Regions from separate parts of the Homo sapiens genome. Here all the other regions are linked to region 1. The links come from fine-mapping of genetic effects on gene expression. A gene starts in region 1. Each other region holds a variant in brackets. All regions are shown on one strand. Distances are from middle to middle.

Evidence for each region. PIP is the estimated chance that this variant, and not a neighbour inherited with it, causes the effect.
Region 2: its variant is fine-mapped to the expression of TRIM35 in hypothalamus (GTEx, PIP above 0.99).
Region 3: its variant is fine-mapped to the expression of TRIM35 in whole blood (INTERVAL, PIP 0.99).
Region 4: its variant is fine-mapped to the expression of TRIM35 in spinal cord (GTEx, PIP above 0.99).

Annotation. Positions count from the first base shown.
Region 1 is chr8:27,309,744-27,312,427 of GRCh38, forward strand. TRIM35 (tripartite motif containing 35) reads right to left here and starts at 1,529. Exons shown (of 6, transcript NM_171982.5): 1 at 1,058-1,529. The coding sequence starts at 1,492. It also overlaps a transcript of PTK2B not described here. RefSeq lists enhancers at 498-607, 1,008-1,227, 1,238-1,387 and a silencer at 1,538-1,747.
Region 2 is chr8:27,259,013-27,261,696 of GRCh38, forward strand. No RefSeq gene overlaps it. Among named protein-coding and RNA genes, the nearest start is that of STMN4, 2.0 kb to the left of the region's middle. The variant C/A (reference allele first, on the strand shown) is at 1,198.
Region 3 is chr8:27,235,498-27,238,181 of GRCh38, forward strand. It overlaps STMN4 (stathmin 4), which reads right to left. Exons shown (of 7, transcript NM_030795.4): 7 at 1-1,408. The coding sequence ends at 1,349. Among named protein-coding and RNA genes, the nearest start is that of STMN4, 22 kb to the right of the region's middle. RefSeq lists enhancers at 964-1,464, 1,465-1,965. The variant G/T (reference allele first, on the strand shown) is at 1,601.
Region 4 is chr8:27,243,916-27,246,599 of GRCh38, forward strand. The region is part of intron 1 of STMN4 (stathmin 4); the gene reads right to left. Among named protein-coding and RNA genes, the nearest start is that of STMN4, 13 kb to the right of the region's middle. The variant A/G (reference allele first, on the strand shown) is at 1,592.

The DNA.
Region 1 (2,684 bases):
AGGCAGAGGAGGGCAGATCACTTGAGGCCAGGAGTTCCAGACCAGCCTGGCCAACATGGTGAAACCCTGCCTCTACTAGAAATTAAAAAAAAAAAAAAATTAGCCAGGCGTGTTGGTACATGCCTGTAATCTCAGCTACTCGGGAGGCTGAGGCACCAGAATCGCTTGAACCCAGGAGGCGGAGGTTGCAGTGAGCTAAGAGCACGCCACTGCACTCTAACCTGGGCGATAGAGGTCTCAAAAAAAAAAAAAAACAAAGGGAAGTAACAGAAAATATCAGAGTGCCATGGACATGTTCAGAAAACTTTTGTTTCAACTGATACATATGTTCTGGGTCACAAGGGAAAATGCATTGCTTCCTATGGGCTAAGATTAAACGTTTTGGAAAATGCTGAGTTAGGCTAACCCTTATCTTCTATTCATTTTTCCTTCCTATATCAAAGAATTCTCCATGTTAGTTTTGCCCTGTAAGTTGCTCCTGGGTTTATGTATAGTCACTAGAACTCTAGATATGGAGATGCTGCTTTATAAACCAGAATAGGCCAGCCAGCCAGGGTCAGAGACCTCTCACTCAGATAATACAAACCGCGGGATCAGCTTGGCAAGTAGGTGACTGGTTTGGGGGAAATCTTAAGACTCCACACCCCTGGCCAGGTCTGTGGCTCCTCCTCCACTTCTAAATTGAGTGTGCCAAGCTACAGGGCTCGTGGGCTGCACCCACATCCGTGCCGCTTAAAGGGACCTGGGCCACACCCGGCTGGCACAAGGGGTGCATGGCCTGGGCCCTTCAGAAGCAAGTGTCGCTGTCTTGGGAACATCATGTAACCTCATCTGTCACTTTCCGTTCGCATTCTCTTCTCCCAGCACGGGCCCCTGGGCCGACCTTGAAGAAGCAGCCAGCCCTGAGAACCTGGGTCGGAGAGGTGGGGTCCTGCATGCTGGGAGCGAGACGCGGGCACACTGGGCTCTGGCAGGCAGGAGGGGCGGGAGCCGCAGAGCCAAGGGATTCCGGGTTCCAGACCCGGCTCGGCCGCCTCGTGCAAATCGCTGCTCTTACCCGAAAGTCGTGGGCAGTGTCCTTCACCGGCTGCACGCGGTGCCCCTGGTGTCGGGGGTCGGCCTGGCAGGAGCAGCACAGCAGCTCCTTGTCCTCGAGGCAGAAGAGGCTGAGCTGTCCGCGGTGCAGGCGGCAGACACGCGAGAAGCGGTAGCTGGTCCAGCGCGCGCCCTCGGCCTCCTCGCGCAGCAGCTTCTCCACCAGGTTGTTGAGGGTGTGGTTGGTGCGCAGGTCGGCGGGTGACGCGCGGTCTTTGCACACTGGGCAGGTGGGCGACACCTGCACCTCCCAGCAGCGGCTCACGCACCCGCGGCAGAAGTTGTGGCCGCAGCGCAGAGTGACTGCGTCGCGGAAGGGGTCGTAGCAGACGGCGCAGAGCAACTCCTCCTTGAAGGAGCGGGAAGGCCCGGGGGACACGTCGGGACTCCGCTCCATGGCACGAGCAGCCGGCTCGGGCGCCCGGAACTTTTGCTCCGGCCCCTCCCACCCGCCCGGCTGCCAACGCCCGCGACCCGAGTGCTGGGAATCGCCCAGTCCCTTCCCCTGGAACGCTGAGAGACAGCGGCGCTGGCCAATCGTGCGGGGGGGATGGCGAGGGGGAGGGAGGGGGCGCTCGGAGGAGCCCCACCCACTTCCGGTGTGCGCGGGAAATCTTGGGAGAGCGGGGTGGGCCTTCTGCCCGCAGTTCCCGCCTCCTCAGGTCCGGGCGGGTCCCTGGCCGGGGTAGCACGGAAGGGTCTCCCAGGCGGCGTAGTAGGGCTTCCGTGTTACTGGAAACCTACTTCCGGCTGCAAATGGGAAAAGGAGCCTCTACCTTAACCAATCCCCGGGAACCTCAGGCCCGCGGATGGGAGAAACCAGAGATGCCAACTTCCTGCTTCCGAAGTAGTGGCTGGGTCTTAAAGCACCGTGAGTGCAATCACCACTTAAGTTTGCAGCGCCTTTTTGAGGACCTATGCCACTCTTGCATTAGTCGTTTACTTATTTTGGCCAGTCTTCTTCTGGCCCGCCGCGGTAAGGAGAAACAAGAGAGGGGTGGCGGCAGAAGAGCTCCGAGAAAACCTGATTCTTGTCCTGTGGTTGAAAAAGTGAACAGGTCATCATGTTTCAAAGTCCATTTACTCATGAGTACAATGGCTGTAATAGCTCTGTTTCCATGAAGTGTGAGGATAAAGTGAAATAAATGTGGAAAGTGCTCATGACAACCACTGTTTTAATGGGCAAGTGCCCATTAAAACAGTGAAATTGAGGACTTCTGCAAAGTTTAGCTGAGATAACTAGAGTTCATGCTCAATTCTTGCCAGGTACAGTAGGCCTGGATGGTTCCTTCAGATCTTCATTCCTGCTTCAGTTTGATCACTTTACAGCCTCCAGATGCAGAATACTTTTCACACGATGCACTTTCATTCCTTTTCTATTGGGAGACAATTCACATGTGTCATGTTCCTGCATGTCTTGAGAGAGCAGAGGCACTGACTGCCTTTTTCCAACTATCTTTTCAAGGATGTTTCTGCATTGAATAGCCCTGGAAGACAGAATTCTTGTCTCTCCAAAGATCTGGCAGACTTATTCCCAATTATAAGAGATGTGAGTTTCCTAAACTTGGGGCCCCTCTCCTGTAATGCAA
Region 2 (2,684 bases), 51 kb before region 1:
TAGTGGGTCCTCACTGCCCCTCCCATCCAGCCCTCCTGGGCCTTCCAGAGGGAGCCACAGGTAGGAAGATGGACTGGTCATTACACTGGTGATTCCCAAATATGGTGGATTTTTTAAAATTTTCAGTAAGTTTTTGGGAAACAGGTGGTGTTTGGTTACATGAATAAGTTCTTTAGTGGTGATTTCTGAGATTTTGGTGCACCATCACCCGAGCAGTGTACGCTGTCCCCAGTGAGTAGTCTTTTATCCCTCACTCTCCTCCCACTCTTTCCCCCAAGTCTCCTAAGTCCCTTGTATCATTCTTATGCCTTCGCGCCCTCCTAGCTTAGCTCCCACTTATGAGTGAGAACATATGATGTTTGGTTTTCCATTCCTGAGTTACTTCACTTAGAATAATGGTCTCCAATTCCACCCAGGTTGCTGCAAATGCCATTATTTCATTGCTTTTTATGGCTGAGTAGTATTCCACGGTGTGTGTGTGTGTGTGTGTGTGTGTGTGTGTGTGTGTGTGTATTACATTTTCTTTATCCACTTGTTAATTGGTGGGCATTTGGGCTGGTTCTATATTTTTGCAATTGCGAATCATGCTGCTATAAGCATGCATGTGCAAGTATCTTTTTTGTACAATAACTTCTTTTTCTCTGGGTAGATACCCAGGAGTAGGATTGGTGGATCAAATGGTAGATTTACTTTTAGTTCTTTAAAAATTTTTCACACTGTTTTCCATAGTGACTGTACTAGTTTACATTTCCATATGGTGGAATCTTGAGGGGGGGTGACGGGTCAGCGATGGTGGCTTCTGTAGTTCCCTCAGGGAATGAGGGAGCCACTAACATAACCTTCACAGGCTGCTGCCCTCAGCCAGTGAGCTGGAGAGGGCAGGGTGAGGCAGGAGAGGAGCCAGGCAGCTGTGGAGCGAGACCCCCTCCTCCAGAACACCTCTCCAGATTAAATCCCCCCAAGATGTGTCCATCATCCCCACATTCCACCGTCCAGCCTTGCCTCATGTGTTCTTCTTGGTGGGGAGGGGTAATTTTTTTTCTTTTTTTTTTGAGACAGAGTCTCGCTCTGTCACCCAGGGTGGAGTGCAATGGCGTGATCTCGGCTCACTGCAACCTCCACCTCCCGAATTCAAGAGATTCTCCCGCCTCAGCCTCCTGAGTCACTGGAACTACAGGCACGCACCACCACACCTGG[C/A]TAATTTTTGTATTTTTAGTAGAGATGGGGTTTCACCATATTGGTCAGTCTGGACTTGAACTCCTGACCTCGTGATCTGCCTGCCTCAGCCTCCCAAAGTGCTGGGATTATAGGCATGAGCCACCACGCCCAGCCGGGGAGGGGTAATTTTATTGAGGCTGAACATGTCCAACATAACGCTCACCATTTTCACTATTTTGAAGTGTATAGCTCACTGGCCTCAAGTGCACACGCATTGCTGTGTAGCCATCACAGCTTTCCATCTCCAGAACTTTGGCATGTTCCCCAATATTCATATGTAACCAGTAAGCAATAACACTCCTTTCCAGCTAACCCCAAACTACTTTCTGTCTCTATGAATTTGCCTATTCTAGGCACCTCGTATCAGTGAAATCAAATAGTATTGTCCTTTTGTATCTGGCTTCATTCTCTTGGCATGTCTTCAAGGAGCATCCATGTTGTAGCATGTGTGATAATTCCATCACCTTGCTCCTCCCTCCTTTTTTTTTTTTTTTTTTTTTTACAAAGTCTTGCTTTGTCATTGAGGCTGGAGTGCAGTGATGTGATCATGGCTTACTGCAACCTCTGCCTCCCAGACTCAAGTGATACTCCCACCTCAGCCTCCCCAGTAGCTGGGACTACAGGCATGTGCCACCACACCCAGCTAATTTTTTATAGAATCAGGTTTTCACCATGTTGCCCAGGCTGGTCTCAAACTCCTGGGCTCCCACCTGCCTTGGCCTCCCAAAGTGCTGGGATTATAGGCATGAACCACCACGCCTGGCACCTCACCCTATTTTAGGAGGGTTTGTTCACCCTCTACCACCAAACCCCTATTGACTGAGAACACGAATAATGACAAAAGTTGCCTTGAATTCAGCCCATGCTTTGAAGTTATTATTTTTAAACTACAGTAGCATCAATGAGCATTTGAAAATCATAGTTAATGCATGGATGTCACATGTTCACCCTGCAGACTGTGCTGGGGATTAAGTAGATTCTCAAGCCCTGGCATGAACCCCTGACCTGCACCCCACTGCCAGGACCTGCAAGCTGGCATCTCACCACAGCACCCCGTGTGGTTCTCCAGGAGGCCCCATGTAGACACACATCTCCAAGCCCCCACTTCACATCCAGAGGGGAGGGCTCCAGTTAGGCTGCCAGCCCCTGGCCAAGCGGTGGCCAGGATGAGGAATGAGCCCTGACAGCCTTTGGGGTTTTCAAAGCACACCAGAGCTGAATCTATGGTGTAATCCTTTCAGCAGGGCTGCAAGGACGGCAGGACGAACACTGTGCTGTTTGACATTCAGTGAGTATCACTGAACAACACACTTATCATTCATGCCACATGCCACCAACCCAGGACCCTCAGCCATCAAGCTGAGCCTTTTCAGTGGGAATCAGGACAACTAAGGATATCAGAAAGTCATTCCCTCAACATGTGGAGACAGGAGAGGCCACACTGCATACCAGGCTGGAATTTGGAG
Region 3 (2,684 bases), 74 kb before region 1:
AGACTGCTGGGTCTGGATGCCTCCTTTGCCTTCTACTAGCAAACACTTTATTTCCTTGCTCGTATTTTCTAATCTACCTAGAATCTCAAACCCCCAAAGCATGGAGGACTTCTGCTATGGTGTGAATGTTGCTGTCTCCCCCAATATACAGGTTGAATCCTAATCCCGACACTACAGAATTAAGAGATAGGGCCTTAAGAGGTGAGATCATGAGGACTCCACCTTCATGAATGGGATTAGTGCCTTAAAGAAAAGGCTCAAGGAAGCCCTTTTGCCCTTCCCTTCTGCCATGTGAGGATGCAGCAAAAAGGCATCATCTTTGAAGCAGATGGCAAGCCCTCACCAGACACTGAATCTGCTGGCACCTTGATATTGGACTTCCCAGCCTCCAAAACTGTGAGCAATCAATTTCTGTTATCAATTACTTAGTCTAAGGTATTTTGTTACAGCAGTCTGAACGGTTGTGACTAAGACAAATTCCTTCTTACAGTGCATCTTGGGGACCATATTAGGATGTCAGTTCATTGAAAGGAAGATTGAGTTTCTTTTCTCATCAATTTAGTGCATGCTATCCAATAAAGATTAGCCCACAGAGGGGATTTTAAAAAACAGAAGAGAAAACCTTTCAATTATGCCAAAGGCTGGCCTGATTCAACCCACCTCACCCAGGCTCCAGATGCTTGAATGGCAGAATTAAGGAAGCAAAGGGGCATCTGCCATCAGATGGATGAAAGCCAGGTTTCGAGAACTTTTTAACAATTACCCAAAGGACACATTTGGGAAATAAAGAACTGGACACTTGGAGTCAATGTTTCATTGGTCATGATGATCAAAAAATGATGGTTCACACACACACACAGACCTCATCCCACCTGCTGCAGGGTGGAAGCAACACCACTGGTACTCACAACCCCTCTGGCTGGGTTCTCTGGTGCGCCCTGCAGCCGCTGCCCCACCCAGGACTCTGTCCTTCACCCTGAAGTTCTACCGCCCTGGTTTTCATCTCTCCTCAACATGGTGCCTGGAGGCTCAATGTCCAGGTAGAGATGTGAAAATCAGATCTGCGCCGGGCAGGGTTGCAATGTCCTTGAGTTCTTCTCCATCTCCCTTTCCCAAACTCTCTCCTCTCCCCTCTCCCACCCCGTCATTGTTCCCCGGAAACAAATAGGATGGCTTCACTGGTCAATTCTTAACATGTACAAACACCAAAAGCAGAGGAAACGCCCCTTGGCCACCCCCCTCCCCCCAAACCCCAGTGCTGGGAGCGCAGCCGGCGGGCGAGGCTGCCTGGAACGTGGAGCTGCTGGAGCTGTCCGGCTGACCTGGAAAGTTCTTTGGCCTCTAGGCTTTACCTGGAGGCCTCTTCCTTCAGCTCCTTGTTTTTCCGCACCTCCTCGGCGTGCTTGTCCTGGAAAGGAAGGGAGGGAAAAGGGCAGGTCACACAAGGCTGCCCGGGGACAAAAAGGGAGGCCAAGGGGCAAGAGAACCAAAAGCAAAGAGTGGCCACCACAGGCAGCGAAGAGCTCTGTCTGCAAAGGCATCCCGAGAGGGGCAGAAGGTGGCAGGTGAGGCTGGCAGGAGGCAGGGGGCAAGCCTACTG[G/T]TGCTGCCCCAGGGAGCTCAGGGTCCTGTGGGTGTCAAACTGCAGCAGGGGCCCACCTTACAGTGACCATGGGCCACGCAGCCTCCCCCTCCCTCACCTGGCCATTCTGTGGTTTGGATTAGATCATATGGCTTGACTTAATATAAGGAGCTGCTGGGGGTAATTTGTGCCAGAGGAGCAGGCAGAACAGACAGGCCTCACTACAAGCATCCCCTACAAATCACATGCACCTGCCTGCTGCTTCTAGTTCTCATCCATCTCCTTTGTGAGAATTGCCTTAACCCTCTTGGTGAAAGATGAGGATTCTTTGATTTTCCTTTGTTATTATTTAAACAAAAATAGAGATGGGATCTTGCTATGTTGCCCAGGCTGTCCTCTAACTCCTGGCCTCAAATGACCCTCCCACCTCTGTCTCCCAACGTGCTGGGATTACAGATGTGAGCCACCGTGCCCAGGTGTGGACTCTTAAAGTGCAAATCGACAGAAGAATTTTGAAAATGTTGCCCAACTCCAAAAAGTGGACTTTCTTACACCTATTATAAGAGAACCTTCTTTTATTTCACAGGGTAGTGCAGCCAAAAGATAGCATCTGCCTTCCAAGGCCCATCTGCAGGAGGATCTTGGCTGGCTCACTTCTCCAACCAGGCCTCAGTTCTCTGATCTTTAAAGAGAAGGGCATAGACAGGTGGTCTTTCACCCCTCAAGTTGTGATGTTTAGTGTTCACCTGCTCACTGTGCAGATTCTCTATTAGACAGTTCTCTATTAGACGGTGACTTTCCTGTGGGTAGGGACCACATTATCTTTTCTACTATGGTGCCTTACACATGGCAAGCACTCAACCAATGTTGTCCCTCCCAGAGCCTGGCACTGTCACATCCAGATGACAGAATCAGCCTGAAGTAGACCCACGGAGGCCCCCAGGTTTTCAGGATAAACTATAAACTACGAATCTGTCCCTGCAGACACCCTAGAACTTTCTGTGGCCTAGGAGTGAGGAGTGGTGTGCACAGGGCAGGGGTTCCCAAACTTTGGTATGTATCAGCATGACCTAGGAAGCACCATCCCTAGACAGCCAGGATTAGT
Region 4 (2,684 bases), 66 kb before region 1:
TCCAGGCCCTCTCCCCACCAACTCTCCCTGGGGGTCCCCTACCCCGACCTCCCTCCCACAATGATGCTAAACAAGCTCAGATTCCATGAACTAATGATACTTCATAATTGGCTTTCCAGTCTCAAGCCCCCTAGCACATGCAAGCGTGGGTTTCCCAAAAACGTATGGATCAAGGGGTGCTCATCTGTCTCCCTCCATAGCTCAAGAACCTGGCCCAATTCAAGGGTTAGGGTGAGAAGCAAATCCTCCTGCAGAATCAGCTGGGAGGCATTCATAAAATAACTGTGTGTCCTGGACTTCTCCCCGCACATGCCCCAGAAGTCTTTGGGCCAATTCTGATATGGGAAGAGAGGGAATTGGACATAGGATGTTAACAGGCCTCTTCAGATGCCTCTCACCTTCCCTTTCCCAAGACGACTGACCTAAGCTGTGTTTGACCCTATTTAAGACAATCCGGGACACAGGAAAGAAAAACATTAAGGAATCATGTCGTCATCACAGGGCCAGCCAGCACACCACCAGAAATCAGCGTGAGGAATTGCTGTGGGACACAGAGATAGGGCTCCACACCACCAGAAATCAGCATGAGGAATTGCTGTGGGACACAGAAATAGGGCTCCACACCCCCAGCATTTGCCAGGGAGCCTGGGAGGTGTCCCTGGTGTCGGTAGCACCTGAGCAGTGCCTTGAAGGATGAGTTAGAATCAGACAGGAGCTGGCAGGAGGGCATTGTGCAAGGGAACATCACGGCCAAGGGTCGGGGTGAGAACGCCACTCAGTGTCCGTGGGATCAGGTCAAGCTAGTTGACGCTAGATCAGAAAGTGGAAAGAGGAGGGGGCGGGGCAGGAGACAAAACAGGAGAGTCAGGGAAGGAGCAGATCTGGGAGGATCAGAGGGGTGGAGGTGATGGGAGCCCATGAAGGCTACTACAAAGAGAGTGAGGAGCAGCCAGCAGTGAGTGGCCATCCTCAGGACCATTTGATCCTCGGTCACCCTCTGTGGTCACTGTGCCAGGGGAGGGTGGCGAGAGCCAGCAGGCTCACTGCCTACATCCTTGCCAGCCAAAGAGACTCTGAGACCCACTTCAAACCCCTTGCCTTTCTGTGCTGGCTGGAGACTGGCAGGAGGAGGTAATGGGGCAGTGAACTCAGCTCTGGCTTTAGGGCTAGACCAGTGTGGGGTCAAATACAAGTATCACCTCTCTTACCAGCTCTCGCTAGTCTCTTTCTCCATCTTAATCCTGCACAGAGCTGTACAAATTAAATGAGAAAAACCCATGCATAGCATCCAGCAGACAGGAAGCACTGAATAAATGTTAGTCTCTTTGCCCTGTCTTTTGCATCAGGACAGCTATCAGGTGCCACATGCCTGCTTCAGAGCCATTACCTCTGGACCCACAAGTAAGGACTGTTGTTGCCATGTGCGGATGGGGAAACTGAGGCTCAGAGGGTTTATGTGCCTGCTCAGGGCAATGCAGCTAGCAAGTTAGAGTGCCCATTTGAACCGAGGTCCAGCTGGACTTAAACTGCTTTGTTCTCCTTGTTCTTGTTGTTGTGCTTTGGAGCCAGAGGCCCCTGTCATTGCAGCACA[A/G]TGGGTCTTCTCTCTGCAGAACTAAGCTGGTCCTGACGGCACCAGTGAGTCCCTGAACAGAGAGGCAGGCCTGGTGCCTGCATGCGACTTCCCTGGTCATGACACCCCATCCCGCAGTCTCTGCTCATGGCCAGGCTGACTGACAAGTCACTGGCAGAGTTAGTAAGCCCTTGCCAGAGTGGCAGTGGCCTTGGACTTCTACCTGGGGAAAGGATCAGAAGTGGAAGCCTGAATAGGTGGAGGGGAGGCAGAGAGGGATGCCTGAGAAAGAAGGCAGATGGAGTAGGAGCAGGCAGTTGGAGTTATGGAATGTGCCTCCAGCCCGAGCTAGAAATGATGATAGGACCCTGTGCTCAGGGGGCACTCGACACCCACCACATTATCCTAGTCTAACTTTGCATGAAGCTGGCTTAGGCTGACAAGACAGGCATCATCAGCTTTGCTTTCAGATGAAGAACCTGGGGTTTGGAGAAGTTCAGACGCTTGCTTAAGGTCACACAGCTCTAAGGGTGCAGAGCTGGGTCTAGTCTCCAGGTCTCTCGACTTGTAAGCTCTTCCATTGTAACCAGTGGAAGAACTAGATACTCACTAATGCTTTCTCTATGGTCCTGAGGACTCACAGAAAGCCAGCCTGGCCTGGGGATATGAGTTAACTTTAAAATATGTGGTAAGTGCTTTCTACATGGAAGGAAATGGGCTAGGAGTTTTAGGAACACAGAGAAGGTCAGAAAGCCAGAAAAGGAAAACCAGGGCAAGAAACGAGATGTTGTAGAGGTGGGCAGAGGTATGCATGGTCATGATCAAGGGATTTGCAATGGAGACCTCTCAGTGTTAAAAATGTGTGCTTACTGAGCAGCTGCTATGTGACAAACTCACTTTAATTTTCGTAATAGCCTCGTAAGGCAGGAATTACTATCCCCATTTTATAGAGAATGAAATCGAGGCTCAGGGAAGCTAAGTGCCTTTTCAAGGCCATTCAGTACAGTAGGTTAAATAATGTCCCCTACATGCATACATGCTCATCCTAACTCCTACAACCTGTGAATATGAGCTTATTTGGAAAGAAGGGCTTAATGAAGGATCTCAAGAAGAG